7 linked regions of the Homo sapiens genome follow. The protein of the gene in region 6 purifies or fractionates together with the protein of the main gene of each other region. This does not show direct contact. Each region holds a gene or a part of one and is shown on either strand. Other genes may lie near its edges. The genes, in order: IDH2, GLOD4, CPOX, NUDT9, PGM1, FDX1 and GCSH.

Evidence for each region.
Region 1: the proteins of FDX1 (region 6) and IDH2 fractionate together in Homo sapiens (co-fractionation; one large-scale study listed by BioGRID). This does not show direct contact.
Region 2: the proteins of FDX1 (region 6) and GLOD4 fractionate together in Homo sapiens (co-fractionation; one large-scale study listed by BioGRID). This does not show direct contact.
Region 3: the proteins of FDX1 (region 6) and CPOX fractionate together in Homo sapiens (co-fractionation; one large-scale study listed by BioGRID). This does not show direct contact.
Region 4: the proteins of FDX1 (region 6) and NUDT9 fractionate together in Homo sapiens (co-fractionation; one large-scale study listed by BioGRID). This does not show direct contact.
Region 5: the proteins of FDX1 (region 6) and PGM1 fractionate together in Homo sapiens (co-fractionation; one large-scale study listed by BioGRID). This does not show direct contact.
Region 7: the proteins of FDX1 (region 6) and GCSH fractionate together in Homo sapiens (co-fractionation; one large-scale study listed by BioGRID). This does not show direct contact.

The regions. Positions count from the first base shown.
Region 1 is NC_000015.10:90,095,401-90,099,610, reverse strand, and holds part of IDH2 (isocitrate dehydrogenase [NADP], mitochondrial isoform 1 precursor), read left to right. Parts: intron 1-4,210. UniProt on the Homo sapiens protein: Plays a role in intermediary metabolism and energy production. It may tightly associate or interact with the pyruvate dehydrogenase complex.
Region 2 is NC_000017.11:768,630-772,839, forward strand, and holds part of GLOD4 (glyoxalase domain-containing protein 4), read right to left. Parts: intron 2,833-4,210; coding exon 2,696-2,832; intron 1,879-2,695; coding exon 1,792-1,878; intron 1,529-1,791; coding exon 1,415-1,528; intron 1,327-1,414; coding exon 1,240-1,326; intron 1-1,239.
Region 3 is NC_000003.12:98,590,812-98,595,480, forward strand, and holds the start of CPOX (oxygen-dependent coproporphyrinogen-III oxidase, mitochondrial precursor), read right to left. Parts: upstream 2,801-4,669; 5' UTR 2,694-2,800; coding exon 2,138-2,693; intron 345-2,137; coding exon 201-344; intron 1-200. UniProt on the Homo sapiens protein: Catalyzes the aerobic oxidative decarboxylation of propionate groups of rings A and B of coproporphyrinogen-III to yield the vinyl groups in protoporphyrinogen-IX and participates to the sixth step in the heme biosynthetic pathway.
Region 4 is NC_000004.12:87,453,118-87,457,018, reverse strand, and holds part of NUDT9 (ADP-ribose pyrophosphatase, mitochondrial isoform a precursor), read right to left. Parts: intron 2,649-3,901; coding exon 2,564-2,648; intron 1-2,563.
Region 5 is NC_000001.11:63,648,801-63,653,010, forward strand, and holds part of PGM1 (phosphoglucomutase-1), read left to right. Parts: intron 1-2,868; coding exon 2,869-3,052; intron 3,053-4,210. UniProt on the Homo sapiens protein: Catalyzes the reversible isomerization of alpha-D-glucose 1-phosphate to alpha-D-glucose 6-phosphate. The mechanism proceeds via the intermediate compound alpha-D-glucose 1,6-bisphosphate.
Region 6 is NC_000011.10:110,460,238-110,463,165, forward strand, and holds part of FDX1 (adrenodoxin, mitochondrial precursor), read left to right. Parts: intron 1-2,116; coding exon 2,117-2,231; 3' UTR 2,232-2,928.
Region 7 is NC_000016.10:81,093,038-81,097,996, reverse strand, and holds the start of GCSH (glycine cleavage system H protein, mitochondrial precursor), read left to right. Parts: upstream 1-1,601; 5' UTR 1,602-1,718; coding exon 1,719-1,866; intron 1,867-4,407; exon of another isoform or gene 4,408-4,959. UniProt on the Homo sapiens protein: The glycine cleavage system catalyzes the degradation of glycine. The H protein (GCSH) shuttles the methylamine group of glycine from the P protein (GLDC) to the T protein (GCST).

The sequences.
Region 1 (4,210 bases), on a different chromosome or scaffold from region 6:
CGATGGTGCATGTCTGTGGTCTTAGCTACTCAGGAGGATCATTTGAGCCCAGGAGGTCAAGGCTGCAGTGAGGTACAATTGTGCCACTGCACTCTAGCCTGGGTGACAAAGCAAGACCCTGCCTCCCCCTTCTCCCCCCAAAAAGAGAAGAGCTAAGGAGAAACAGGCAAGAAAGGTGTGTGCACAAAAGTTTGTATAGGGCAGCCAGAAAAGTCCTCACTGAAGGAATCGCTGAGGAGGGGAGGAAGCAGGCCATTTTCGGTATTGGGGGAAGAGGGACTCGCAGGTGCCAAGGGCATGATGGAAGAGCAGAGAGGATGGTGCGAAGGCTGGCTCAGCAGGCACCAGGTGGAGTGACAGGATGAGGTTCGGCAGTGGGGTCTGTAGAGGGCTCACAGGCCATTTTTGAGAGCTTTCGCTTTTACTTTGCAGGGTTTTGAGAGGAGTATCGTTACCTGATTTCCATCTTATCGGGAGCATTCTAGCTTCAGGGACCTGGCAAGAGAGGATGATGGCTTGGACCTGGGTGGTGGCGCTGGGGATGGTGAAGAAGTGGTTGGATTCTGGATATATTTTGAAGGAGGAGCCAGTAGTGGGGAAAGGTTCCAATTCAGGCGATTTTACATAAAAATCTAGATACGCAGCAGGCACTCACTTATGGCAAGGGTGGGCTTGTCTGAGGGTGGCTTCTGGTTTTGGTGGTTTGGATGTGAGAGAAGGGAAGGAATGAAGGATGACACCAAGGAGTCTACTAGAGTTTGTTCCAAAATGGCTGTTCTGGCCGCGTGCGGTGGCTCCCAGGACTTTGGGAGGCCGAAGCAGGCGGATCAGTTGGGGCCAGGAGTTCGAGACCTGCCTGGCCACCATGGTGAAACCCGGTCTCTACTAAAAATACAAAAATTAGCTGGGTGTGGTGGCAGGCGCCTGTAGTCCCAGCTACTCAGGGGCTGAGGCAGGAGAATTGCCTGAACCCAGGAGGTGGAGCTTGCAGTGAGCCGAGATCACGCCACTGCCCTCCAGTGTAGGCGACAGAGTGAGACTCTGTCTCAATACATACATACATACATACATACATACATGCATGCATACATACATACATACATACATAAAATATACAAAGTTGCTGTCCTGCCTTCTTGAGCCCCCAGGAATTGGAACCTTTCCCCACTCTCTGATCTTTTGCTGGGACATGCTGACTGAGCAGCCTTTCTGCTGAGAGCATGGGTAGGAATGTGGAGGGAGCAGTTATGCCTGGGGCTGGCTGCCTGCGGCTGGACCTCTAGCCTCCTGCTGGGAGCAGCAAGAAGCCAGGGATGTGTTTTGAAATCCTTACTTGGTATTGGGTGCTAGGAGCCCCAGACAGGGAGGAGAGTCAGCCTAACGTGCCTCTGGTGACTGGTGTAATTCCATCCTGCACTCTCGCCAAGAGGACAGTGTTTGTGCAATGCATCAGCTGAAGATTCGTGGTGGCTGTCACTTCGGAGGTTTTCAGGGAGGCCTAGCTGCTGCTCTGTGTATTTCAGGTAGCTTGTCACCACTTATCTCTCAGAGAAGGGCAGACCATGGCTGTATCTCCACCATACAGGCTGAACAGCAGACAGGGGTCTCAAACTCCAGTGCCCTGGGCCACACTGGAGGGCACTTGGCTGTCATGGAGTGAAGGGAGAGGCCGCCTTCAGCCCAGCCCATCCTTGCCATGAGTGAGTGCCTGCTGCATTTCTAGATTTTTATATAAAATCTCCTGATTTTTTTTGACTGGTTTAAATTTTTATTATTTTGGTAAAAAACGTATAAAACTTACCATCTTAGTCATTGTTCAGTGTACAGTATTGTTAAGTACATTCGCACTGTTGTGCAGACATTACCACCATCCATCACCAGAACTTTGTCACCTTGCAAAACCGAAACTCTCTACCCATGAAACAATACCTCCCCACTTCCCGTCCCCAGTCCCTGGCAGCCACCTTTTTACTTTCTGTTTCTATGAATTTGACTATTCTAGGTACCTCATGTAAGTAGAAGCATATAGTATTTGTCTTTTGTGACTGGTTTATTTCACTTAGTTAGCATAATGCCCCCCAGGTTCATCCACTTTGTAGCAGGTGTCAGAATTTCCCTTCTTTTCAAGGCTGAATCATATTCCATTGTATGTAGATAACAGTAGTCCCCCTTATCCTTGGAGGATGCATTTCAAGATCCCCAGTGGATACCTGAAACTGCAAAGCCTGTAGATACTATGTTTTTTTCCTATACATACAGATCTATGATAAAGTTTAATTTATGAATTAGGAACAGTAAGAGATTAGCAATAATAACTAGTAATAAAATAGAACAATTATAACAATATACTGTAATGAAAGTTACATGAATGTGATCTCTTAAAATATCTTACTGTACTGTACTCACCTATTTTCAGACTATGGTTGACTGTGGGTAACTGACACCACAGGTAACTGACGTCATGGAAATAAAACCTTTGATAAGGGGGGACTGTATCACATTGTCTTTATCCATTCATCTGTGATGGACACGTGGGTTGCTTCTATCTTTTGCTGTTGTGAACATTGCTGCTATGAATGTGGGCATACATATATCTCTTTCAGACCCCGCTTTCGATATTTTTGGATGTATATACAGAAGCAGAATTGCTGGATCATATAGTAATTCTTGTCCTTTTCTTTTCTTTTTTTTTTTCGAGACGGAGTCTTGCTCTCTTTCGCCCATGCTGGAGTGCAGTGGCGCGATCTCAGCTCACTGCAAGCTCCGCCTCCCGGGTTCATGCCATTCTCCTGCCTCAGCCTCCCCAGTAGCTGGGACTACAGGCGCCTGCCACCACGCCTGGCTAATTTTTTGTATTTTTAGTAGAGTCAGGGTTTCACTGTGTTAGCCAGGATGGTCTCGATCTTCTGACCTCGTGATCCACCCGCCTCAGCCTTCCACAGTGCTGGGATTACAGGTGCGAGCCACCGTGCCCGGCAGTAATTCTTTTCCTTTTAGCTAAGGAACACCCATACTGTTTTCCACAGCAGCTGCACCATTTCACATTCCCACCAACAGGGCACAAGAGTTCCAATTTCTCCACATCCTTGCTAGCACTTTATTTTCTGTTTTGTTTTTCTTTTCCTGATAGTAGCTCTCTTAGTGGTTGTGAGGGGATAGTGGGGTGATATCTCATTATGGTTTTGATTTGCATTTCCCTGATGATTAGTGATGTTGAGCATCTTTTCATGTGCTTGTTGGCCATTTGTATATCATCTTTGGACTTGAAATGTCTATTTAAGTCTTTTGTCCATTATATTTATTTATTTATTTTGAGATGGAGTCTTCCTGTTACCCAGGCTGGAGTGCAGTGGCATGATCTCTGCTCACTGCAACCTCCACCTCCTGGGTTCAAGCAATTCTCCTGCCTCAGCCTCCCAAATAGCTGGGACTACAGGTGTGTGTCACCACACCAGGCTAATTTTTTTTCTATTTTTAGTAGACACAGAGTTTCACCATTGTGGCCAGGCTGGTCTCGAACTCCTGACCTCAAGTGATCTGCCCTCTTCAGCCTTCCAAAGTGCTGGGATTACAGGCATGAGCCACGGTGCCCAGCCAGTCTTCTGTCCATTTTAACGTTGAGTTATTTGTTTTATTGTTGAGATTTACTGATTTTTAAAACTTGGTCACCAATTAAGATTTTTTTAAAAAACCAGTACCTGGAACAAGCAGAACAAGTCTCTGCTGGCCTTGGCTCATGTTGCTGTTCTCAGTTCCCCTGGGATGTTTGCTTCCAGGGAGGCCTGGGCACTCCTGACTTTGGTGACAGCCCTGCTTGCTCTCTCTCTGTTACCTGTAGGTTTCCCCTTCCACATTCACTGCCTCCGGGCAGGCACTGTTGTGTTTTAGGCATTTCAGTATCCCAGTGGGGTACTGGATAAGTGCTTAGTTAGCACCTGCCGGTGAGTAAATAATCAGGTCCTGTGGTCTCTGAGGGTTTGACACATCAGGTCTTTGATCTTGACCTTGAACTCTCCTAGCCATGCCTGCCTGAAGCCCAACCGTGGAGCCCAGGCTGAGGCTGAAACCTGAAGAACTGGCCCCAAGTGAGTCTCTCCTTAGGGCTCCTGATTATGATAGTTCATTTTTTTTTTTTTTTAACAAATTTGATTAGCTGTCCTCAAATTAACTCATAGGAGATGCTCCCCAGAACTAAACTAGCTCTGCAACA
Region 2 (4,210 bases), on a different chromosome or scaffold from region 6:
CTCAGATTTTTAGAAGAAGAAATCTGGAGAGGACGTGAGAGGGAGAAACAGCGCGCACTCAGATTTTTAGAGGAAGAAATCTGGAGAGGACGTGAGAGAGAGAAACAGCGCGCACTCAGATTTTTAGAAGAAATCTGGAGAGGATGTGAGAGAGAGAAACAGCGCGCACTCAGATTTTTAGAAGAAGAAATCTGGAGAGGACGTGAGAGAGAGAAACAGCGCGCACTCAGATTTTTAGAAGAAATCTGGAGAGGATGTGAGAGAGAGAAACAGCGCGCACTCAGATTTTTAGAAGAAGAAATCTGGAGAGGATGTGAGAGAGAGAAACAGTGCGCACTCAGATTTTTAGAAGGAGAAATCTGGAGAGGAGATATGGGGTCAGTAAAAGGTTTTTAAAGGATGGGAGCTTTCAGCGCCTGTTTGCACGCTGGCGAGAATAACTCACTGGAAAGAAGAGACTGATGCTGCAGAATGGAGAAGAGATGATCAAAGGAGCTGCAGAGCTGAGGGGATCAGATGGAGGCATCTCCCTGGGGAGAGCTGAGGGGAACGGATGGAGGCATCTCCATGGGGAGAGCTGAGGGGGTCAGATGGAGGCATCTCCACGGGGAGAGCTGAGGGGATGGGATGGAGGCATCTCCATGGGGAGAGCTGAGGGGAACGGATGGAGGCATCTCCATGGCAAGAGCTGAGGGGATGGGATGGAGGCATCTCCATGCGGAGAGCTGAGGGGAACGGATGGAGGCATCTCCATGGGGAGAGCTGAGGGGGTCGGATGGAGGCATCTCCCTGGCGAGAGCTGAGGGGAACGGATAGAGGCATCTCCATGGGGAGAGCTGAGGGGGTCAGATGGAGGCATCTCCATGCAGAGAGCTGAGGGGGTCGGATGGAGGCATCTCCATGGGGAGAGCTGAGGGGGTCGGATGGAGGCATCTCCATGGGGAGAGCTGAGGGGGTCGGATAGAGGCATCTCCATGTGGAGAGCAGAATAAGCACAGATCCACCAGCAGTGGTTCCAGGGCAGCCTGAGGTTGTGGTAAGGCACAAATGCTAAGTCTAGACAAGCAGTCTACACAGGTGGCAGTGAAGACATCGGTCCTTGGCTGAGGTCAACCCAACAGCGAAAGGACGTGGTTCTGACATTAAGAACCTGGACCCTGTTGCTTAGTCTCCTCCCACACACACTTAATGCCATCCCTCTCAGGCCCATGGTGACATAAATGTAGAAATGGGACTCACATCATCCAACAATTTGCTTCCCTCTGGATCCATCTTAGAAAGTTCTCGAAATGCTTCATCCCCGACAAAGCAAATTTCATGTCCGTCCTACACCAATAAAGAGAAAAGACACCTGCCAAAGACATCCTTGAAGAAACCCCTGGTCCAGCCTGCCCCCTGCCTGAGAAATACTTACAGGGTCGGCCAGAATGACCACCTGTACTGTTGCTTTCCCTGGGGTGTCCAGGCTCACCAGGGGAGTCAGAATCTTCTGGTTCTCCCTTTTCATCAAGTCTTCTAAGTCTGGCAACTTGAGGAAAACAGAGGCAACGTGAGCCAGGGGTCACACACTACTCAGGACACGGCCCTCGTCAGTCCTAGAGGAGTATCAGATACCATAAAGAACCAAGGCGCCATTTGTTTGAATTTATTATCTCAGCTGCTCTTGAAACAACTGCTGAACTTGATACTAAAGCCACAATCAAAAAGGACCTCAAGAAGGGAAGGACAAAGTTCTTAGCTGGGTTGAACTAGCTAGTCAGAAAGCTCAAACGATCTGGTATCAAGCGTTACCTCTTTCTGGGGGCAAGAGAAGGCAATTCTTCCAAAAGCTGCTGCATGGTCCACCCCACCCTTGACGCCCTGTAGCTCCAGCTTACACTGAAATAGGAAAGGGGGTTATTTTTTGGAACAGGTTATACATTCATTACACGTATGTGGTAGAAAAATTCAAATATTATATACTAAAGGAATAAAGTAAAAACTGAGTCTCTATCCTACTCTCACCCCAGAGACAACTAGTCCACACTTTCCTGTGTATCCTTCTAGAAGCACTGCACGCATCTATGTTTTTTTTTTTACACAAATGGTGGTATAATTTACAAATTATTCTGTTCCTTGTTTTTCTCCACTTAATGTTACCATGTCAATACATAAAGATTTGCCTCAATCTTTTTGCTAGCGACATAGTAATCCATTCCATGAATGAGCCGTAAATTACTGAAATATGTCTCTAATCTATAGGACACTGAAATTCTTACACATTGTGATTACAGACAATGCTGCAGCAGATAACCTTGCACACACTTCTTTGTGCCGATGTATGTTGAGCACATCTGTAAAATAATTCCTAGGAGTAGAATTGCAGGGTCAAAGTGCAAGGACTAAATCGTGCTCAAACGCTGGGTTATTAGAAAAAGAAGATGAAAAAGATCTTGCATTAAATCCATTCAATCTCTTGGATTAAGCAATTCCACTTCTGAAGAGATATATCCCCAAATATAAACAAGGTAATATCTGGGTGGTAAGGTTATCACTTATTTTCTTCTGTTTATCTATATAAATATTGAATCACTGTGAAGAAACTATGGGAACAACCTTCATGTTAACTTCATTTATAAAGGTTATAAGCCATTTATAAGCTTCGTTTACAAGCCAAATTCAAAGTAACAGGTTATTCTTCTCCAAGATTGCTCACCTGGTTATCAGCATAGCCCAGCAAAGCCCTTTGCTTTTCTTCATCTTTTTCATAAATTTTCATTCCCAGTAGATTACACCAGTAGTTCAAGGACTTTTGAAGATCAGACACTGCTAGAGTTACTTTTAATACAGGATCTGTTGGGTAATAAAGCAGGAATAGACAGATCAATTTAATAGAATAAAATAGAAAGACCAAAACATGCGCATGTATACTTACAAATTCAGTTTATGATAAGAAAGGGATTTTAAGCCAGTATGAAGCTGGGTGCAGCGGCCCATGCCTGTAATGCCAGCACTTTGGGAGACTGAGGTAGGAGGATTGCGTGAGCCTAGGAATTCAAGACCAATGCAGGTAAAACACTGAGACCTTGCCTGTATGAAAACTTTAAAAAAATTGGCTGGGTGTGGTGGCTGATGCCTGTAATCCCAGCACTTTGGGAGGCCAAGGCAAGTGGATTACCTGAGGTCAGGAGTTTGAGACCAGCCTGGCCAACATGGCAAAACCCTGTCTCTACTAAAAATAAAAAATAAAAAAAATTAGCTGGGCGTGGTGGCGCACGCCTGTAATCCCAGCTACTCGGGAGGCTGAGACAGGAGAATTGCTTGAACCTGGGAGGCGGAGGTTGCAGTGAGCCGAGATGGCGCCGTTGCACTCTAGCCTGGGAGACAAGAGCAAAACTCTGTCTCAAAAAAAAAAAAAAAAAAAAAAAAGATTAGACAGGCGTGGTGGCTCATGTGTGTATTCCCAGCCACTTCAGAGATGGAAGCAGGAGGATCGCTTGAGCCCGGGAGGTTGAGGCTGCAGTGAGCCAAGACTGCACTACTGCACTCCAGCCTGGGTGACAGTGAGACCCTATCTCGAAAAAAAAAAAAAAAAAAAAAACAAAGACAGTATGAAAAGCCTCATTATTCAATGGACGGCGCTAAGAAGACTGGCTAATCATTTGGTAAGAAAAACTTACATCTTCGAAATAAATGACAAAATACATTCCTGATGGGTTAAAAAAATAAGTTTAGAGAATGAAACCATGAAAATACTAGATACAGATGATTATTTATACAATTTTGGAGTAGAGGAAGATTTTTCTTTAAACCTGACACCAAAGATAGAAAAACTATGAAGAAAAAACTTCTGCTACATAAATTACACAAAATGGAAAACTCCTAGACAACAACCAAGAAAAGGAATTACAATCAAAACTAGAGTATACAACACAGTAGGGGGAACAACTGCAATATATTGGACAAAAAGTCCTTAATATGTAAATCACCTGTAAATATCAATAGGAAAAGAATGAACATGCTAGAAAAATAGGCAAAAGGCACAAAGCAATAATCCACAAAACAAGGAATTAGAATGGTCAAATAACATACGAAAAAATATTCAGGCCGGGCGCGGTGGCTCACGCCTGTAATCCCAGCACTTTGGGAGGCTGAGGTGGCAGGATCATGAGGTCAGGAGATAGAGACCATCCTGGCTAACACGGTGAAACCCCGTCTCTACTAAAAATAC
Region 3 (4,669 bases), on a different chromosome or scaffold from region 6:
ATATGATTTCCAAGTCAATTTTCAAAAGCTGCTTTTTAATTTGTCACTTAAAAACATAATTTTAAAAAAGTATTTGTCAACGTGCGGCATATGAACCCGAATGGCTTTTTTCAGAAGCAATATTTATTTTATAAATAAAACTTGTGGGCAAAATAAGGTTTGCAGGGACTATTAGAGACTATCAAGACTGTCTGATTTACCATCTTTAGTCTTCAGAACTTTTCCTCTGCTTCTCATTTGTTTTGCAGCTTCCTCTGAAAGATTTCCATGAACAACAGAAATGCTCACCCCAGCCTTTTCGAAAACACACCCATCTTGAAGTACACAGCTGATGCCGCCACCTCCTGTGTATAGAAATGTAAAAAAGGAGAGAATGTAAGAGTATGTGCAAAACTGAAAGCAACACTTGCATGAAGATGGTTATTTTCCCGTTTCCCAAATCTTTTATATCAGTGTATTTATCATTTTATGTACAATACAATTAGATAACTAGCTTAGCTTTATGACATATGCTATTAATATTGGGCAAATACTAGACCTTCTCATATCACTAAACTGAATATTTCTTCAACATTCTCCTGCCATCATCTAAAATAAATCACTGGAATATTCTCCCTTCAGATTCTACTGTTCAGAATGGCATCTATCAGTTATGATATATGAGAGAAAGCTAAGGTTAAAAATAGGAATGGGTAGACTTGAAGGGTGTTCTATTATTACTGAATTTAAGAGATCTATATTGTTTCAAAAATTTCTTTCTCAGTGGGCTGCTTGCCTTTTAATTTACAAGCAATTAAGAAACAGTAGGTAATCAAATTCTGAAGGGATTCAGAACCTTAGAGTGAGTGAGACGCACATTAGTATTCACGTGTATCAGCCTTACTAATTTTTTTTCTTAAGGTATTAGGGTCACTGCAAGGGCAATGTTTCATGAAAGTTCATGTTTGGCTTGTTTTATTTCTAAGAACATTTAGAGCTGGATGGGACATAAGATGATCCAGTACAACCCTCATATATTCCAAATGAGAAAACTGAGGACCAGAGGGGCAAAACATCTTATCCAAGATCAAACTGCTGACAAGTGGCTGCAACAATTTGTCTAAATGCTGTCTATGCTTCAGACAATATTCTAAGCACTTCACATATATTCCATCCATATATATATATATATATGTATATGGATATATATATATATATATGTAGTATGAGGATTAAAAGAGATGAAATACATATATATTTCATAGATGGGAAAACAGCCATAAAAAAGTAACTTCTGAGGATCACACAGCTGGTCTAGTACTTGAGGTTGTGTCCTGGTTCAGTGGTCTTTGCTTGAAAACATAAGATGGAAAACTAGACTGAACTTCATTTAATATAGATGTGTCAGTATCACAGCTCAAAATCTGCCGGTGAGAAGCTGCTGTTGTATTTCCAGCTAGGAAAAGTCAGGAATCTTTCAAGTTTCCACTCAAGATGTGGGGTTTCACTGTATGGGCAACAACATGGTCATGAATGTACGCCTCTACGAGAACTGGGTTTTGATGCTCAAGTATTTTGATATTGGAAGAGAAGATTTTCCTAGCAGGAAATCTGATGCGTGCATTTGGTAGTGCTACTGAGAAACGAATCAAATATATCTTGTGTAACAGTAAAAAGAAGTGGGAAGATTCTGACACAATGACATCCTGGCTGGAGGAGTTTAGCCGACACTTAGCGCACAGGAGATGAGTTCTTTCCATCTCCTAAAGAGGAAAAAGGGCAAATTCACCCAGAGAAGGAGAGAAAATGTGTTCCATAATCTATTGAAATTTATGTTCAGTAACGAACTTTGGACATCTAAGCTTGTTAGCTGCAAATACCCCTTAAGAGTTCTACAAAAAAATGCTGCTACGGAATTGCAAAGATTTTGAAATGCAGTACTACAGTGACAGCTGATCCGGGTCCATACCTGCAAGCAGAGGGCTAGTGACCCTTTCGTGTCCATCTTTTTATCAGCGGCCTCTAACCAAGCGGCCTCTCTGTGGGTACCCCCTACCTACCCCATCCCATATTGTGAACTATTATATTTTCTGTCTGCAACCTGGAACCTGACCCTTTTTCCCTGTCTCCAACTCCCGCCAGGGGCCGGCCTCCTTACCTTCCTTCCTCTCCCACCGGTCCACAGAAAAGTTGGCGCCCCCGTCTACCTGTGCCAGAGCCTGGCACACCTGGGCCTGGGTCTCCAGAATCAGCAGCTCCATCTTGGTCTTCATGTCGCCCGGCCTCCTTCGCAGCTCGCCCAGGTCGGTCACAGGCGGGGCCATGAAGCTGCTGCAGCGGTGGGCCAGCTCATCCTCCTCCTCCTCCGGCCTCCCCAGCGAAGTGGCCCGCGTCCCCGAGGTCTTAGGCAACATCTCCGCCCGCTGCACATGCCCGAAGGCGGCGGTGGCCAGCCCCACCAACCCCGCCAGCGCCGCGGCCAGCCCTGTCCCCACCCAGGGGCCGCCTCTCGACGTCGAGCCGTGCCCCAGCCCGCGGCTCTGCTCCGTGCCAGCCGGGCCAGGGGGCCGGCAGACGCGTCCGGCTGCGCTGCGCTGGGACCAGGCTCGGAGCCCTCCGCCGCCGCACTGGGACCAGGCGCGGGGCCCTCCGCAGCCGCCCCGCGCCACGAGCCAGCAGGGGCCCGAGCTCAGCCTGCCCAGCTGCAAGGCCATGTTCCCGCACTATCACCTGGAGCAGTGCCTGCGTCCCAGAGCCCTGCGTTTGAGCCCCCCACCCAGACCCCCGGAGTATTGAGCCGGCGAGCTGCACAGGCGGAAAGAACCTTTCGAGAAGAGCCGCTGCAGCGTCGGGCTCCGGAGGCGGGGGCGGGAACTGGGGCGCGCTGGGAGCTGTAGTCCGGATCCTATCGCCGCCTGCGGCGTCCCTGCGCGGGGCGGGAGATAAGAATCCGACGCGCCCAGAAGGGCTGGTCCGAAGGGAAGAGAGTGGGGCGGGGACGGTGCTGTGGAAGGGACGGGAGAGATAAAAGAGGCTTTCTTGTCACGTACAACCTCGGGTCGGCTGTTTACTCAGCCAAGGAGAGAAGATAGAGTAGGGCTGGGAGGCTGAGGGCGGACTGGGGCGGAAATGTGGCAGAGATCCCAGTCCCGCTTACATTTTCAAACAGGATTTGCGAATACAGAGCCTGGCTCAGGATCTGTATAGACCCGCCCTTCGCCCTGGGTCCTGGTCCTCTAGAGTTTTTAGAGGGGATGGGCAGGCTGGGAAACTCTTTGCTGAAGGATGGTTTTCTAAAGAGAGTGGGAGAAGCTAGTAATGGACTCGGAAGAGAGTCGAGGAGAAGACTTTCTGTGATCGAGTCCACATCACAGTTCTGTCCTTAAGATTTCCCCAGGCTGGGGCCGGGCGCGGTGGCTCAAGCCTGTAATGCTAGCATTTTGGAAAGCCGAGGCGGTTGGATCACATGAGGTCAGGAGTTCGAGACCAGCCAACATGGTGAAACCCTGTCTCTACTAAAACTACAAAAAAATAGCCGGGCGTGGCGGCGTGCACCTGTAGGCTCAGCTACTCGGGAGGCTGAGGCAGGAGAATCGCTTGAACCCGGGAGGCAGAGGTTGTAGTGAGCCGAGATCGCACCACTGCACTCCAGCCTGGGTGACAGAGTGAGACTCTGTCTCAGAAAAAAAAAAAAAAAAAAAAGGTTTCCCCAGGCCTTGCTTCTATAGTGCCTACTTGATTATTTTAGAAAAAGGAAAAGCAACGTGACTGTTTTGGTTAACCAGTAGAAAATTCCTGACTTGGTGTGTTTTGGTGATTAACAAATAAGAATTTAAAAAATAGTTATTCTACTACTGTAGGGTGCTCCCAAATATTGCTCACGTTTAATACTTACAACAACTGCTACAAACTAGGCAAGGCAAATATCCACACTTCCTCCTACTCTGTCTCCCTTCCCCCACCCTTTAAAGAAATGAGGAAAGAAGCTAATAGATTTGACAGGCAGGTCTTTGTCTCCCCTGTAACCATACCACAGCTCCATGGTTCCTGGACGTAAAAGTGTGAGAACTATTGTCATGGGCTAATTTGTCCCATAAGTCTCCGGGATGATTTTAATTTCTAGTAGTAGATAATAATTTAAGCCACTGGTAGCTTTTCCCACAAGTGTTTTCTTTGTGGCAGGATGCACTGATGGAACTTCAATGGCTTTTGAGTCAGATCAATTGGCATCTTGTCCACACACAACTGTACCTGGCAGCTCTCACTGGGACATGATGTTAGCAAGGTGGGTGTGCTTGCCGAAGCCTCACCACTGAGAATCTGTGAAAAGTAAAGGCTTGGATTGAGAAGTGACTAAGCGACTTTTAGGGAAGAAAAACAATTAGCTTTTGGTCATAGTGCAACCTGCCAGGAGGCCAAGTTAGAAGTGGAGGAAGGGAAATAAGAATTGTCATTGTAGGAAGGGTTGATGGCCTCTACTGGATGCCTGTGATGGGGTTGGGCTGGGCCTGGTGATGATAAATGAACCTCATCAAATGAAAAGGAACCTCCCTGGTACGTTTATTTGTAAGAAACCCCCTCATTATTGCTCTAATTCTGCTAAAAATACCCATAAAGTTAGTAAAGCCCATAAAGTTAGTTAAAGCTAAGTAAGAACAGACTGTTTTGAACATTTGCCCGGTCACAAAGG
Region 4 (3,901 bases), on a different chromosome or scaffold from region 6:
AGAATTTATTCTGATGAAATAGAGACAAGCCTATTAAAGTATTCAAGGCAACATTACTTAAATATTTTATTTTATTTTATTTATTTTTAGATGGAGTCTCGCTGTTGTTGACCAGGCTGAAGTGCAGTGGCACAATCACGGCTCACTGCAACCTCCGCGTCCTGAGTACAAGCGATTCTCCTGCCTCAGCCCCCCGAGTACCTGGGATTACAGGCATCTGCCACCACGCCCAGCTAATTTTTTTGTATTCTTAGTAGAGACCACACTGCCATACCAAAAACTGGAGAGACAGGCAAATACAGAGAATCACAACTGACCAGGGAGAGAAGCCTACCGCTGGAGTCAGCACCTGGTAGGAACACTTAAAGGGTAACTAACTGCTGAAAGCTGACCTTTGGACTAGCTTGAAAGATAAAATCTCCTAGGGGGTCAGCCATACCAGTATGAAGAGGGGGCCTACATTTTAGTGAGCTTTACCTCCAAGAAAGCCACCAGGTGAAGACTGGAGAAAAATCCTCTCTCCTTTCTAACATGGAGAGGGGAAAGGTAACCAATTTCAAATACACCCAGATCACTCTGCCCTCAAGGAAAACTATTTTACCAAGCCCTAAGCAACCTGAGGGAAAGGAAATACCCAACTCCAGCCCCCGCTGGATTTCCTGTCTTTCCTAAGGATTGGGGAGGAAGGAGGGAAGCTGAGAATAACATATGAAGGGTCACAGCCCAGGGCCACAGGCTCACTAAAAGACTGACATCTAACCATATATTCTCCTATGATTCCCCTTCCTCTAGAATTTACCACCATATCTATCAATAGGACTCCTGTTTAATAAAAGGGGAAGACAGCTGAAAGAAGGGCATGCTTCAGACCTCATTTAATAAGTCTCCAGGGAAACCCAAAACTAGAGGAAATTTTAGCCTCTGACACATACAATGACAGCAAACAAAAAACACAGCCTAACTCCTAGCCAGATAAACATAAAACCTCACGCTAAAGAACTATTTGCCTTAGTTCCCTTACAAGTTATATCATGGTCAATTTTCAAAAAAGCACTACAGCCAGGCGCAGTGGCTCATGACTGTAATCCCAGCACTTTGGGAGGCCAAGGTGGGTGGATTACCTGAAGTAAGGAGTTTGAGACCAGCCTGGCCAACATGGTGAAACCCCATCTCTACTAAAAATACAAAAATTAGCCAGGCATGGTGGTGCATGCCTGTAGTACCAGCTACTTGAGAGTCTGAGGCAGGAGAATCGCCTGAACCCGAGAGGCAGAGGTTGCAGTGAGCCATTATCATGCCACTGCACTCCAGCGTGGGTGACAGAGCAAGACTCCATCTCGGGGTTAAAAAAAAAAAAAAAGAAAAAAGAAAAAAAAGCACTAAAAGCACGCTAAAAGGCAAAAAACATAGCCTAAAGAAACAAAGCAAATATTAAAACCGAACTCAAATATGGCAGAGATTTTGGAATTATCAAAACAAAATTTTTTAAGTTTAAAGAGAGAAAAAGATAGGGTAAAAACAGTGAACAATCCATAAACTCTATAATCAACTTCTGGAGGATCAGTCATTGTTTTTAACTCCAAAACTTTAAAGTAGTTAACAAATTTATCAGTACTAAAGTTGTACAGACCTGCTTCTAATTTACATCTGCATATTTCTTCTAAGTTTTCATACTAGGATAAACTCTTCTAATACACCTTAGTGGAAATACAGGAATAGAAAATGGTCCCAGGAGTTTCCTCCAAGTTCAACAAGCAAAAGCACAGGATATGGAAATGACAGATCTAGTTCTAGCCCATTTTGTAAGTGAAAAAACTGAGTCCAAGAGGACAAATGATTTGTACAAGGTTACACAGCTCAGAAAGAACTATGAGTGGAACATTCATTTCATTTCTCTAGCATGGTGCCCCCACTTTTATGCTACAAATAAAAACAAATCAAATTTAGCAATAAAATATGTTTCAAGGGAGCCATTCAATGTGTACATTAAGACCAAATTAATTTTTAAGACAGCAGATTTTTCCTTTCTCCTTCTGTAATAACAGGTTTGACCCTCCTCATAAAATTTTAAATTCCATACACCAGAAACAGCATTCATTTAAAATTTTTTCAGTACTTGGAATTTTTTGTTATTGCTTTGTGTATTAACAATCCAAGATTATTATAAAAATATTTGAAATAGTAAGATATAAATCCCATTTCCTTTATCATTGCCATACTTCCTACCCAAATCCCAGTTGCTTTTGTTTTGCAAAAAAAGGGAACTATACTCAATAAATAATCTGACATCTTTAAAGCATATCATTTTAGCCCATAATTTCATCCTTAATTTCAAATGTTACCAATGGATTAAAGAAAATTTAGTCACTGGTGATAAAAGTTTTGAAGATTTCTTCTATGTATTCCTTTAATACCAACAATTTTGCTTTCATATAACTACAGTCCTACAATCAACAGTTAATTGGTTTAAGATGCTAAATAGTCCAGATTTAATCATGCCTTAGTGGGCTAATGGCTTAAATTGATCCTTTAATCCCAGCCAGTTTAATAAATATAAAGTTACCTGTTTCGTCATGGTAGTTCACAGCTTCTGTCTCCATCCATGCATTATCAGTGTTTCGAGGATCATCAACATATCCCTTATATATCTATTTTCAAAAGAAGACAAATTTTTTAAAAGTCCAAGGTGTAGTGAGTACAGCAGAGCATGTTACCTTCACTAGCATCAGAAATGTAAATATCCTGTTGCCCAACAACATGAACATACTTAATGCTACTGAGCTGTACCTTCAACAGTTTAGATGGTAAATTTGACATTATGTGTTTCTATCAAAATTTTTTTAAAGAAATGTAAATAGCCGGGCGCGGTGGCTCACGCCTGTAATCGCAGCACTTTGGGAGGCTGAGGCGGGTGGATCACCTGAGGTCAGGAGTTCGAGACCAGCCTGACCAACAAGGTGAAACCCTGTCTCTACTAAAAATACAAAAAAAATTAGCCATGCATGGTGGTAGGTGCCTGTAGTCCCGGCTACTCGGGAGGCTAAGACAGGAGAAATTACTTGAACCCAGGAGGTGGAGGTAGCAGTGAGCCAAGATCGCGCCACTGCACTCCAGCCTGGGCAACACAGCGAGACTCTGTCTCAAAAAAAAAAAAAAAGAAAGAAAGAAAGAAAAAAAGAAAGAAATGTAAATATCATAAAACTTTTAATGTAGTACTTCATGTGCTTGTTTCAAATTTCCCAAAGAACAATATTCTCTTTTGAGGCAGCTTTAAAAATCATGAAACCCTCAGGCCAGGCGTGGTGGCTCATGCCTGTAATACCAGCACTTTGGGAGGCGGAGGTGGGCGGATCATGAGGTCAAGAGATCAAGACCATCCTGGCCAACATGGTGAAACCTCGTCTCTACTAAAAACACAAAAATTAGCTGGGCATGGTGGAGAACACCTGTAGTCCCAGCTACTCAGGAGGCTGAGGCAGGAGAATCGCATGAACCCGTGAGGCAGAGGTTGCAGTGAGCCGAGATCGCATCACTGCACTCCAGCCTGGTGACAGAGCCAGACACTGTCTCAAAACAAATAAATAAATCATGAAACCCTCAACACTTCAAACTCTAATTTCAGAATCTGAGAACAGTCAAATTTGGGCAATATGATTTTTTAAGAGTCCATCACTTAAGTATTTTTCTGTGATTATAGTTTCTGAAATACAAAGGTAGATTCTTCTAGTTAAACAAAGGAGATCTATAAATAAAACTAAAGATTACTACTTAAGCTATTAATATATGAAGATATTTGGATCTATTCATCTAGCACAAACGTAACTCAAAAAAATCTGGACAACATAAATAACTAAATCCCAATTCTGAAAAGAAAACAAGCAATCCAAATAAAAACTGACCA
Region 5 (4,210 bases), on a different chromosome or scaffold from region 6:
TCAGGGATGAAATGAAGTCAATTTTTATGTCAGCCATAAAGAGTGAGGCTTTAAAAGTTTAGCTAACATAATCAAAAGAATAAATGCTTTATAAGCATTTTAAATGTGTCCATTGGGTGGACATGATCATAACATTGGATTTGGATTCAGAGAAATGGATTAGAATTTTATTTCTTCCCCTTACTAGATTGGGGAGCCATTTAGCTTTTCTCTGTACTCAGTTTTGTCATCTGTAGAAATGGGAATAACAGTCCAGCTGTTGAGAGGATTAAATGAATAATGAGTCTGAAAATGTTTTGTTAACTTTGGGGCACTGAAAGCCTAGAAACTTTTTTTCATAAATTATAGAAACAGTTATGCTTAGTCCACATCGACTTTTCTGCCTTGTGAAATAGGTCCCCAAGGGCTATATACTTGTCAATAATTTTTTTAATTTATTCAACAGATATTTACTGTATACCCGATTTCCATCGGGTACTTGGAATTCAGCAGTGAACAAAATACTTAGAATACTTAGTAATTATTCCTTATCATGCGTACTTCTATTTTTAAAAAGCATTAAAAAATTTTTGACAGTAGTACTTTTCACTAATTCCAATTTGCCTTTCCCCCAGTTAGTGTAAAAATCTAACAAGAATTTTTCTGGACCTCAGTATTCCAATTATAGAGAGAAAATATGGTAAAAAGGATATTAGATGAATTGTTTATGTATAAGAAATGAATAGGTGTAATTTCTCTGGACCTCAGTTGCCTGTTCTATAAAATGGGTGAGTTAGACTAGAGAATTTAAAAAATATATCCCAGATTTTATAGTCCGTGATCTCTGGATAGTCAAGAAAGAATTCAACTAAGTAAATTAAGCTCCTTAATCAGAATTATTTTATTAACTTTGGACGGATTCATTGATCTCTTTCTCTCTCACGTTACTGTTTTGTGGAAGGAATAAGTAATAACTACCTGACACCACACAGTAGCCCTGGGAACCAAGGCAAAAAAATCCCTACTTTATAACAGACAGAAAAACCTGGTCATTCAGAACAGCAGTCATGAACTGTCTAGAACCTAGAGTATCATAAAAACAAGGCCATGTCTGTTTTTGTGCCCTAAGCACCCAACTCATAGTAGAGACTGCATAAATACGTTTTGAACCGATAAATGAATGAGTTAACAGGTGAACAATAGCCAGAGTAGAATAAGGTTAGGAGGGGTTGTTCAGAGAAAGGGTCACACCCTTGAATTAGTCACAATCCTCCATATAAAAACTATTTTAACATGATTTTATTAATTATCAAATATAATTGCTAACCAAGTATTACAAATCAAATCCTTAGTACCTGCATTTATGATTAGTTAAAACTCCATTATACCTTCCACTTACTGAACAAAAGCGCTAGGCACTTTTGCATGCATTGTCTCACTTTAGCCTCAAAACAGTTATTGATAAGGTAGCTGAGATTCTGAGAGATAGGGCAGCTGGCCCTGTAGTCACACAATTAATAGCCAATAGAGGCTGGATTCATAGCTCATCTGTCTGATTGCAAAACCCAGACTCTTCTATTCCACCCCTCTGTGCCTAGGGTTTAGAAAACATTTCTCTGGAGTACCCAGAGGTCAAAAATGTAAAGCACAAACACCTGGTTGTAATTTCTTGTTGTTTATCATGTTAACTAGGGGAAAGAGCTGACTTTAAGATTAAGGGGACTGTTTGGCCCTTGATTCATAGAATCCTGGAGCCAGAATAGGCTGGCCTTAATTCCTCAGCATTTCTCATGTCTCAGAGGTGTCATCTTGCATATATGATATCTATTTCACGATTACAAATAAATATAGACTCTGCTATCTTGAGCTTCTAAAAAATAACTCTCTCAAGAGGGTGTATGCCACTAGGTCAAGAAAAGCCACCTGTACAAGTCTTTAACATCATAAGAAAGAAGTCAAAAAGAATTCTTGAAGGAAAACTCATCTTTATAGAATTTCATTTGTGATGCACTTTTTTCCTTGGCCCTTTTTCATCCGCACTGGGCCTCTTCTGTCAGGGTGAACCCAAAGGACCTTGGACCAAAATCCACTGCCACTGAAAGGAGGGAGGCAGAACTTAAAATAAAACAAAATTTAAAAAAAAAAATTGGGAGAGCATCAGGATAAACAGCTAATGCATTTGGGGCTTAATTCCTAGGTGATGGGTTGATAGGTGCGGCAAATCACCATGGCACATTTACCTATATAACAAACCTGCACGTTCTGCACATGTATCTTGAAACTTACTAAAATTAATGAAAAAAAAAAAGGCATTTTAGATGTAAAGAGTCAGTGTTTGGCGTCTTCATCTGGTCGGTGAAAACTTGGCCCTGCTTTAGGAAGCTCCTGTGGAGCTGGAACTCTGCTTAGTCAAAATCTCAGCAGCCTCAGGCAGGTCTCAGGCTGGGAGCAGGCCCAGCATTCACCCCAGAGAAGCCCAGGGAGCTTGGAGGAGAAGTGCCTGAGTCACGTGCTCCTTTCAAGAGAGTTCTCCAGAGATAACATTGCTTTTCATTTTACCTCCTCAGGATGTGGTGACTAAATGTTAGATAGCATCTTTCAAAAGCCTTTGAAACATCTTAGAGCTTTATTCTGTAGAAATGCCAAGATGGGTGTTTTCTGCTTATTCAGAAGCTCATAACCCTTCCCTGAAATCCTCCAAACCCTTCCTTTCATCCCTGGCCTGTTCCATCCCCAGTGACTGACAGGCCTGTATTTTTTTTGCCAGCTTCTTCTGAAGTTAGATAGTTTTGCGGGAGGGCCAAACAAATGATGAAGAAAGTGCTGACTGATAGGCCTTGGTGTGATCTGCAGTCAGCCCGTGGGCCTCAACTTCGTGACTTCTTCCAGGTATGATTACGAGGAGGTGGAAGCTGAGGGCGCAAACAAAATGATGAAGGACTTGGAGGCCCTGATGTTTGATCGCTCCTTTGTGGGGAAGCAGTTCTCAGCAAATGACAAAGTTTACACTGTGGAGAAGGCCGATAACTTTGAATACAGCGACCCAGTGGATGGAAGCATTTCAAGAAATCAGGTAGAAACAGACCGGTGTGTAAGTGAGAGAGAGACCTCAGAGCTTCATCTCTGACATCTCAAGGGAAAAATTAAAAAGTTCCTGTTGGCTATTTTTCTTTTGCTGCTGTGTTTTTCTAGGGTAGCTGTTCTTACCTGGTTTTCTGCTGTCCCACGTGACTCTCACATGCACTCGTTGGGACAGTGGTTTATGCCCTTGTTCTGTGCACTGTCCAGTACCCTCATTCTGGGATTCTTAACCTGGACTCCAGAGGGATTTTTGCACTCTCTGGAATGATATGCAAGATGATGTGTCCATTGTACATGCAGAAAGGAGCCCCAGAATCTAAGAAAGAGGGAGAACTGTGGGAACTTAGATGTCAACTCCTCTCTTTTCTGTCAGCAGATTATAGCAGAGTGACAGCATGTAAGTGGCATTATACTTATACGTTTCTCTCGTATGTTCTAATTTCTAAAGGAGAGAAAAATAGATGAGGCATTCCCAGACTTAGAAACGTTGACCATCGTCATTCGCAGCACATGAGTGGCACCCCACCTAACACAGCAGTACCTGGCAAGACGCCACAGTTTAGGACCTGGAGCATCTCTAGATGTGGACAGAATTGTTAGTGCTTCCCTTACTGTGTGCCGGGTACCCTAGGCTGCAGGCTGGGTCAGGCTTTCTCCTGGCTTCTCATGAACACTTACGCACCAGGGTTCTCTCACCTCTGCTTCTGTTGCCTGTTGTCACAGAGTAAACTCATCTCTCACAATTCATAATAGAATAAAGAGCAGGATGAAGATTCTGTTACAACCTCCCAGTTTACTTTTTTCCAATTGACCCAGATTTTTGGCCTGGTCCTTGTCAAGGCATCTCATAGGGTTTGGAAGGGCCGGGCCGTGGGATTTACTGGAGGCTTCCCTCTGGGGAGCAGGCAGTGAATGGATGGATGGGCCACAGCAACCCTCAGTGCCTGGAGTCTCCCCTCCTCAACTTCTAGCACAAGTGGTTTCTCATCCTTGTGCCTGTTTGCCATTTGTGAGAACTTGGGGTCCAGTTTGGATGATTGTAAATTATGCCTGAGATAATTAGAAGAGAGACCTGTGGTTGAGGAAGAAAGGGGTGTAGAAAAGGAGTGGAGCTGAGGGATGGCAGAGTGGGACAGAAGTTTGTGTCATT
Region 6 (2,928 bases):
GTATTTCTCATGGTTAAGCACACTCCTTTACTCCAAAACTTCCTGGTGGTTCCTCCTTGCTCACCAGTGAAACACAGGCCCCTTAACTGATATTCACAGCTGCCTGTGGCTCTGGCCGCTTTTCTGGCCCATCATTCCCCTTGTCCTTGTTTACGCTGTGCAGCAACCAAGCTAAAACACCCATCTTGCTTTAAATGTGACTTGAGCTTCTTTGCATTGTGTTGCCTTTGCCTCACATACTTTTCTCCTTTATCTTGTACTAAATAGTAAATCCTACCTATCCTCCAAAGCCCATTGTGGACAACACCTTCTGTGGCCAGAAGTAAGGGCTTTCTTCTTAGACCTCTCAGAGCCATTTGGCTTTCTCCCTCGGTGGCATTTGCCACAGTCTCACATGTTAACTATCTGAATGTGTCTCATCTCATCCCTTTGATTGAAAGTTTACTCATTAATGCTGGCATTAGCAACCAATCCTCACAGCAGTCCTGTGAGGAATTCTCCTGCTCATCTTGAAGATTAGGTTAGGAAACTACCATTTGGTGAGGTTAAGCAAGTTGCCTGTGAACATGGTATATTAAGTGCTGGATTCTGCACTGCTGGTCTCTTTGGCTGTAACTCTGATGCTGTCTCTTTAGTGCATCCCAATGCCCAGAAAATAAGAAGTGTTCAGTAAGAAAGTGTGGAGTTGATTTGCTCTTCCTCATTGACATTTAGTGTTGTGCCTTTAGGTGCTCAATAAATGCTTCATGAGTACATTAATAAAACCAAGACCTGAATATCAGATTTCATCAAATTGAAGACATGTCAATTGTAAGATTAACATTTCTTTTTATATGCCACTAAGGAAGATAAAAGCACTGCTAATTCAAATATGGCACAGTCTTATCACTTAACATATTTTCTGAATATTGAAAGAGTTATTTAGACTTATCTAGACATAGATTTGAATTATATATCACTGCTAAGAAAAGAAAATGGCTGAGTGCGGTGGCTCATACCTGTTATCCCAACACTTTGGGAGGCTGAGGCGGATAGATCACTTGAGCCCAGGAGGTTGAGACCAGCCTAAGCAACATGGTGAAACCTTGTCTCTACAAAAAATACAAAAATTATTCAAGCATGGTGGTGCATGCCTGTAGTCCCCGCTACTTAGGAGGCTGAGGTGGGAGGATCACCAGGGCCTGGGAGGTGGAGGTTAACAGTGAGCTGAAATCATGCCAGTGCACTCCAGCCTGGGTGACAGAGCCAGACCCTGTCTTAAAAAAAAAAAAAAAAAAAAGAAGGAAAATAAACACAAAATAAAATTAGTAGTAATTCTGCAAAAAAAAAAGGAAATTAGTCATTCTTAAAATGACAAATATTTATTAATTCCAAATTTACACCCTGCTTTCTTTCTGTATTCTTCTTCATTTTCATTTTGTAATCTTTTTAGACTATTTTGAAAAGTAGGTAAATTCGACATGTGTACTTACATACTTTGCATAACTAAGTTGAAGAGACCCCTGTATGAATATTGTCACCAAATCTGTAGCTGTGACATGACCATTACCTGACAGTGTAGCAGTGATTGTAAGATTCCATTGATTTTAAGATGCTTCTTGATTTCCAGAGATGGTAAAAATTTGAGAAAAAATATGCTCTTATAATTGATGACTTAAGTCTATGTATTTATTCCAGATTTCTTCTTTTAAAGGCTTTAAAAAGTGTAGCTTTCTTTTATAGTCTGTGTGGTTTTAATTATCTAGGAATTGATTAATCATTTTCTTGGCCTTGCTAATAACCTCAGTTCTCCACCATTGTGCCTTCTGATTGTTTCCTTGCTTGTCAGCTCTTTGACCAAAAAGTAGTGGTCTGGTGAAACAGTTAATAGATAATAGGAACCAAAGGCTAAAATGAAGCTTTGGTACACCAAGTTTATTGTATTCATATTTACCTTTTGTTATTCTCTAGTTGATAGGGTTGGTTATATCTGTTTTGACATAAAGGAAATTTAAAAGGTTAATAAGTTCCCTGACTGCTTTGGGTAAGAAAATATAAAGACTATCTTAAACAACTGCATTGCCTTGTGAATATATATACGTAATACTAAACCATACCTTCCCCCTTTTCCATACAGATCACGGTTGGGCTGCCAAATCTGTTTGACAAAATCTATGGACAATATGACTGTTCGAGTGCCTGAAACAGTGGCTGATGCCAGACAATCCATTGATGTGGGCAAGACCTCCTGAACTAGAACAAATAGGAATATTTTCATGGAATTTTACCTATTTTTATAATTATTATTTCTTAAAGTGATTAAATGAGAACATGGATGAGTGGACTTCATATTATGACTAGCTTTACTATTTTAATTCACCTTGCATAACTACTGAATTTTGTCATTCTTGAAAGTATGCAATTTTTATTTTGGTTATATTACAAAAATGTCAATCAAATATTAAAAAATAGTTAATGTGATAGAAAAACCTTACATATTTTTTTCTTATGTTTGTTTAGCGACTTTAGCAAAATGTTTTCATATAATCTCATCTGTTTACCTAGAAGATAGGTTAAGGAAATATATTATTATTCCTGTTTGATGTGGGTGAAGGCAGAGATCTAACCTGGCTTGTTTAGGGCCATACCACTAATTAGAAAATCTGTGCTAGAACCTGTGTCTTATTCCTATAAGCTATGTGTTCAGACTGAAACTGGAGAAATTATGACTATTTTATTTATAGTAGTAGTTAAATCTGAATGTGTATGGACAAAAATATTTAATTGCTCAGTAAACTGCTTAACTTCAAAGATAGTTATTGACCTTATAAATAAATATTTCAAAATTTTGATTCGGAAGACTAAGTCTGGACGTAGACATTATAATGCTATCAAAGAAGTTTGATCTCTGTTTTGACTAAACTAGAGGAAAAATGATTGGATGTGTTT
Region 7 (4,959 bases), on a different chromosome or scaffold from region 6:
AAGATGGCGACCTCTGGTAGGTCTCACTGCTCATTATACGCTAATTATAATGCATTAGCATGTTAAAAAAAAAACAACTCCCACCAGCGTCATGACAGTTCACAAATGCAATGGCAACGTCCAGAGAAGTTACCCTATAGTCCAAAAAGCGGAGGAACCGTTAGTTCTAGGAAATCCCTGCCCCTTTTCTGGAGAACTCTTGAATGATCCACCCCTTGTTTAGCATACAATCAAGAAATAACTATAAGTACACTTAGTCGAGAAGCCATACTGCTGCTCTGTCTACGAAGAAGCCATTCTTTTTTTTCTTTACTTCTCTATTAAACGTGCTTTCACTTTATAGACTCTCCCCAAATTCTTTCTTGCATGAGGTCCAAAAACCCTCTCTTGGGGTCTGGATTGGGAGCCCTTTCTGTAACAGTACTAAAGGTGTGTGTGTAGCTTAAGGTGTTTTTCAGAACAGTATTTCTTTGCTGACTCATGGCCACTCCATAAAATCTGTGTTAAAGGTGAGGTTTTTCCCAGAACCTAATTTTTTTCTGACTTCTTGGATTGGGATGATGACTTCGGCTTTTCTCGGAAGGCCTTGGTCACACCGCTGGCCGATGAAACAAGGAATTGTGCACACTGGGTCTCAGCTCTCTGCGTTTTGAATATTTCTGCATTAGTGACTGGCTTGGGTCCAGTCTCCACCAAGAAGCCACTTATGACCCTTGGACAAGTCTTTATTCCTTTTTAAGTAAGCTTCTGGATTCTGCCGGTCCTGTTTGGGGTCCCTGGGGCTCTTTGAGACAGGAACGTTACAGAGCAGTTGAAGGAGAATAGAAACTTCCAGGCTGCAGTTCTGTCTAACAAAAGGAAACTGTTGAAATAGCTGCACAAGCTATGGGCTAAGACCCTGAAAAACCAGGGTGTGGGTCAACCTGGCTAAAACCAACTGGACCCAACGTGGTGTGGCTTTGACCTAGGCTTCACCTAGGACTCATTAACATACTAAGTCACACACCCACCGGCACCACAACAATTCCGGGAACACCCATATTTGGTGTAAAAATGGGTGGCACCACAGTTCTGACAAGTCTCCACCTTATTCCAGAAACCTTTGTGTATATTCCATTTCTCAAAGAAACCCATAAAGATGGAAACCCCAAGCCCCATTGTGTGGCCCTCTTTTGAGTCCGCCCTTTCTTCAGTGTGTACTTTGCAGTAAACCTCTGTACTTTCACGACTTTCCGACTTGTTCTTGAATTCCTTCGTGAGGTGGTGAAACCACCTTTGAAAACTTATGACAGAGGCAGTAAAAGAGATACACATGTGGAAAGGAACCCAGTCTGGGGCTAGGCCCCGCCCCCCTCCTGCGGGCAGCCCAATCATACCCAGGCCCGCCGCGCTAGTCTCCGCCTCTCGGTGCTGCCTCTTCCGGGCCTCAGGTTCTTCCCCATGCCCACGCCCCTCTTTCGCGTCGCCGTATCCGAGGTCGCGCCAGGCCCTGGAGTCCCCAGTCTCCGCGTGCTGGCCAATCAGACCCTGCCTCGCCCCCTCGCCTGGGAGTCTCCGCCCTCCACGCTCTGCCCAGTCAGGCTCTGTCCCGCCCCCGCGGCACCGCCTCCGCGCCTCCATCCAGCCGGCTCCCTCCGGCCGCGAACTGCCCCTCCCCGCCCCGCCTCCCGGCGCGGGTGGCCGAGGCGTAGCGCTGCGACCCCCGCACCCCTGCGAACATGGCGCTGCGAGTGGTGCGGAGCGTGCGGGCCCTGCTCTGCACCCTGCGCGCGGTCCCGTCACCCGCCGCGCCCTGCCCGCCGAGGCCCTGGCAGCTGGGGGTGGGCGCCGTCCGTACGCTGCGCACTGGACCCGCTCTGCTCTCGGGTAAGCGCGGCGGGCACGTGGGCGGCTGCTCCCTCCCCGCCTGGGCTGCTTGTCCCGGGCCCAGCGGGACACGGAGGACGCCGGGGCACCGCTCCTGAGCCACCGGGGCGGAGCGAGCGCGGACCCTGCCCCCTTCTTATTTCTGTTGGGATCCCTGGCTCTGCGGCCGCTTCTCCCCCTTAAGTAGCGGGAGGACCCGCGAGTAGCCTTTGCCCTAGGGATTGCATGCAGCCGGGAGGGGAGGCCTGCGGGACACCGAGGCGGGGGTGGCCCGGCGGGTCCGGCGGGCAGGTCGGCCGCTTGCTGCAGAAGCCAGGCACGTGTCGCTTAAGCGTCTCGGTGGCCTTAAGTTTATCTCCCATCTGCGTGCATCGTTGAGACCCCAAATGGGGAGGCCTTTAGTTTACTAAATGGACCGTTACTGAGAACTCCGAAGTAAAATTAAAACAGAAGCGCTTATTAAAATTAAAGCACCAGGCAGGGCGCGTTGGCTCATGCCGGAGGGCGGATCACGAGGTCAGGAGATCGAGACTATCCTGGCTAACACGGTGAAATCCCATCTCTACTAAAAGTACAAAAAATTAGCCAGGCGTGGCGGCATGCGCATGTAATCCCAGCTACTCGGGAGGCTGAGGCAGGAGAATCGCTTGAACCTGGGAGGCAGAGGTTGCAGTGAGCCGAGATCGCGCCACTGCACTCCAGCCTGGGCGACAGAGCAAAACTCCACCTCAAAAAAAAAAAAAAAAAAAAAAATTAAAGCGCCAGATCTAGATTTTTTTACTAGATAAAACAATCATAACTTTGAAGATTCAGCTATTTCCCCAAAACAAGTAAGATAAAGTCTTCTGGACTCAACAGAAGTTCTGCTAAAGTTTGTATTGGATCATTCATGTGTGTGCTTGCTGAAATGAGCCCTAACTCAAACGGACTTGAAATAACTGGGAAACCTGCCCATGAATGTTTCGGCCATTTGTGCTACTTCAGCACAATTATTGCAGGGGAAAAACAATTTTCTTTTTTTTTTTTTTTCTTTTTATTGAGACGGAGCCTCGCTCTGTCGCCCAGGCTGGAGTGCAGCGGCGTGATCTCGGCTCACTGCAAGCGCCACCTCCCAGATTCAAGCGATTCTCTTGCCTCAGCCTCCCGAGTAGCTGGGTTCACTGGCGCCCGTCACCACCTCCAGCTGAGTTTTGTATTTTTAGTAGAGACAGGGTTTCGCCACGTTAGGCTGGTCTCAAACTCCTGACCTCAAGTGATCCACCCGCCTCAGCCTCCCAAAGTGCTGAGATTACAGTCGTGCGTCACCGCGCCAGGCCAACAATTTTCTTTACGCCCAAATGTTTGATACACTGACTGCTCCTCTGCTTCGATTGCGTAGATCAGTGATGGCTCTTGTCTCATTAGCTCATTGTTTTAGAAACCTGTTTGGAGCTGGAATGGTTGATAAATTTATTCCAAAATTTGTAGCATAAAGATTTACTTATGCTGTCTTGCTAATAGTCTGTCCGCTCTGTTTCTGATAGGGATCCCTACATCACTAATTTGAATACAAAGGTAAAGCATTTCTCAGATAAGAATTTAGTTTCAAGTCTGTGGTTTTCGTTCCTTTTTTTTTTCTTCTTTTTTGAGATGGAGTCTCGCTCTGTCGCCCAGGCTGGCATCCAGTGGCAGGATCTTGGCTCACTGCAACCTTCGCTTCCCGGGTTCAAACACTTCTCCTGCCTCAGCCTGTGGAGTAGCTGGACGACAAGAGCACACCTCCATCTCAAAAAAAAAAGAGAAGAAAAATTGACTAATACTAATATAAAATATTTTATCTGACTAGTGACATTGAAAAAGGAAAATGCAAAATTTTCATAAATTGCTCACAACTCCTAATTTTCCGAGGCCAAAAACCACCTTTTTCAAGGCCCAGTTAGAAAGTAATTATTGTCCAGGCACGGTGGCTCATGCCTTTAATCCCAGCACTTTGGGAGGCTGAGGCGGGCGGATCACCTGAGGTCAGGAGTTCAAGACCAGCCTGGCCAACATGGTGAAACCCTGTCTCTACCAAAAATACAAAAAATTAGTCGGGCGTGGTGGCACGTGCTTGTAATCCCAGCTCCTTGGGAGGATGAGGCCGAATCACTTGAACCCGGGAGGCAGAGGTTGCAGCGAGCCTAGATTGCACCACTACACTCCAGCTTGGGCGACAGAGTGAGACTCTGTCTCAAAAAAAGAAAGTAATTATTTACCTAATCTATCCACTTCTTCCTGTCGGGCCAAGGGTTAAAGGAGAATTGTACTAATCATTGCCTTTAGCCTAAACAGCATGCTTAGTAAAATAAAGACTTAGGTCTTTGAATCACTGCAACCTCTGCCTCCCAGGTTCAAGTGATTCTCCTGCCTCAGCCTCCAGGGTAGCTGGGATTATAGGTGCCCGCCACCATACCCGGCCAATTTTTTGTATTTTAGTAGAGACGGGGTTTCACCATGTTGGCCAGGGTGGTCTTGAACTCCTGATCTCAGGTGATCTGCCTGCCTCGGCCTCCCAAAGTGCTGGGATTACAGGCGAGAGCCACTGCTGTTGGCCAGGACTGAGGGGTAACATTACCTGTAATGTTGCCGTCTCCCTCTAAACTTGGGGCCAACAATTTTCTTTACACCCAAATGTTTGAGACACTAACTGCTCCTTGTTAAGGAGAATTGTACTAATTACAATTAGTAATTGCTCGGTTGCTAAAATGAGGGTCACAGCAGCCTTACTCCTAAAATTATCTTCACAGGTAGGCAAGATGGCAAGGTCAAAGAAGGTAGTCTCAGGTGGTGTTTATAGTTGTCCAGTGCTTACTTTGAAAAGGTGTTTTAGCTTCAAACTGCTCATAATTGGCATATAACCGGCGATTTGTAGCAGAGTGAGAGAATTAAGTGTTAAAGACAAATAACTATATACTATCTATTTTCCTCAGAATCCTCTTAATAAACTTTAAAAAATCACGTCATTCTGCAACTTTTTTTTTTTTTTTTTGGAGATGAAGTTTCGCTAGTCGCCCAGGCAATGGTGCAATCTCGGCTCACTGGAATCTCCGCCTCCCAGGTTCAAGTGATTCTCCT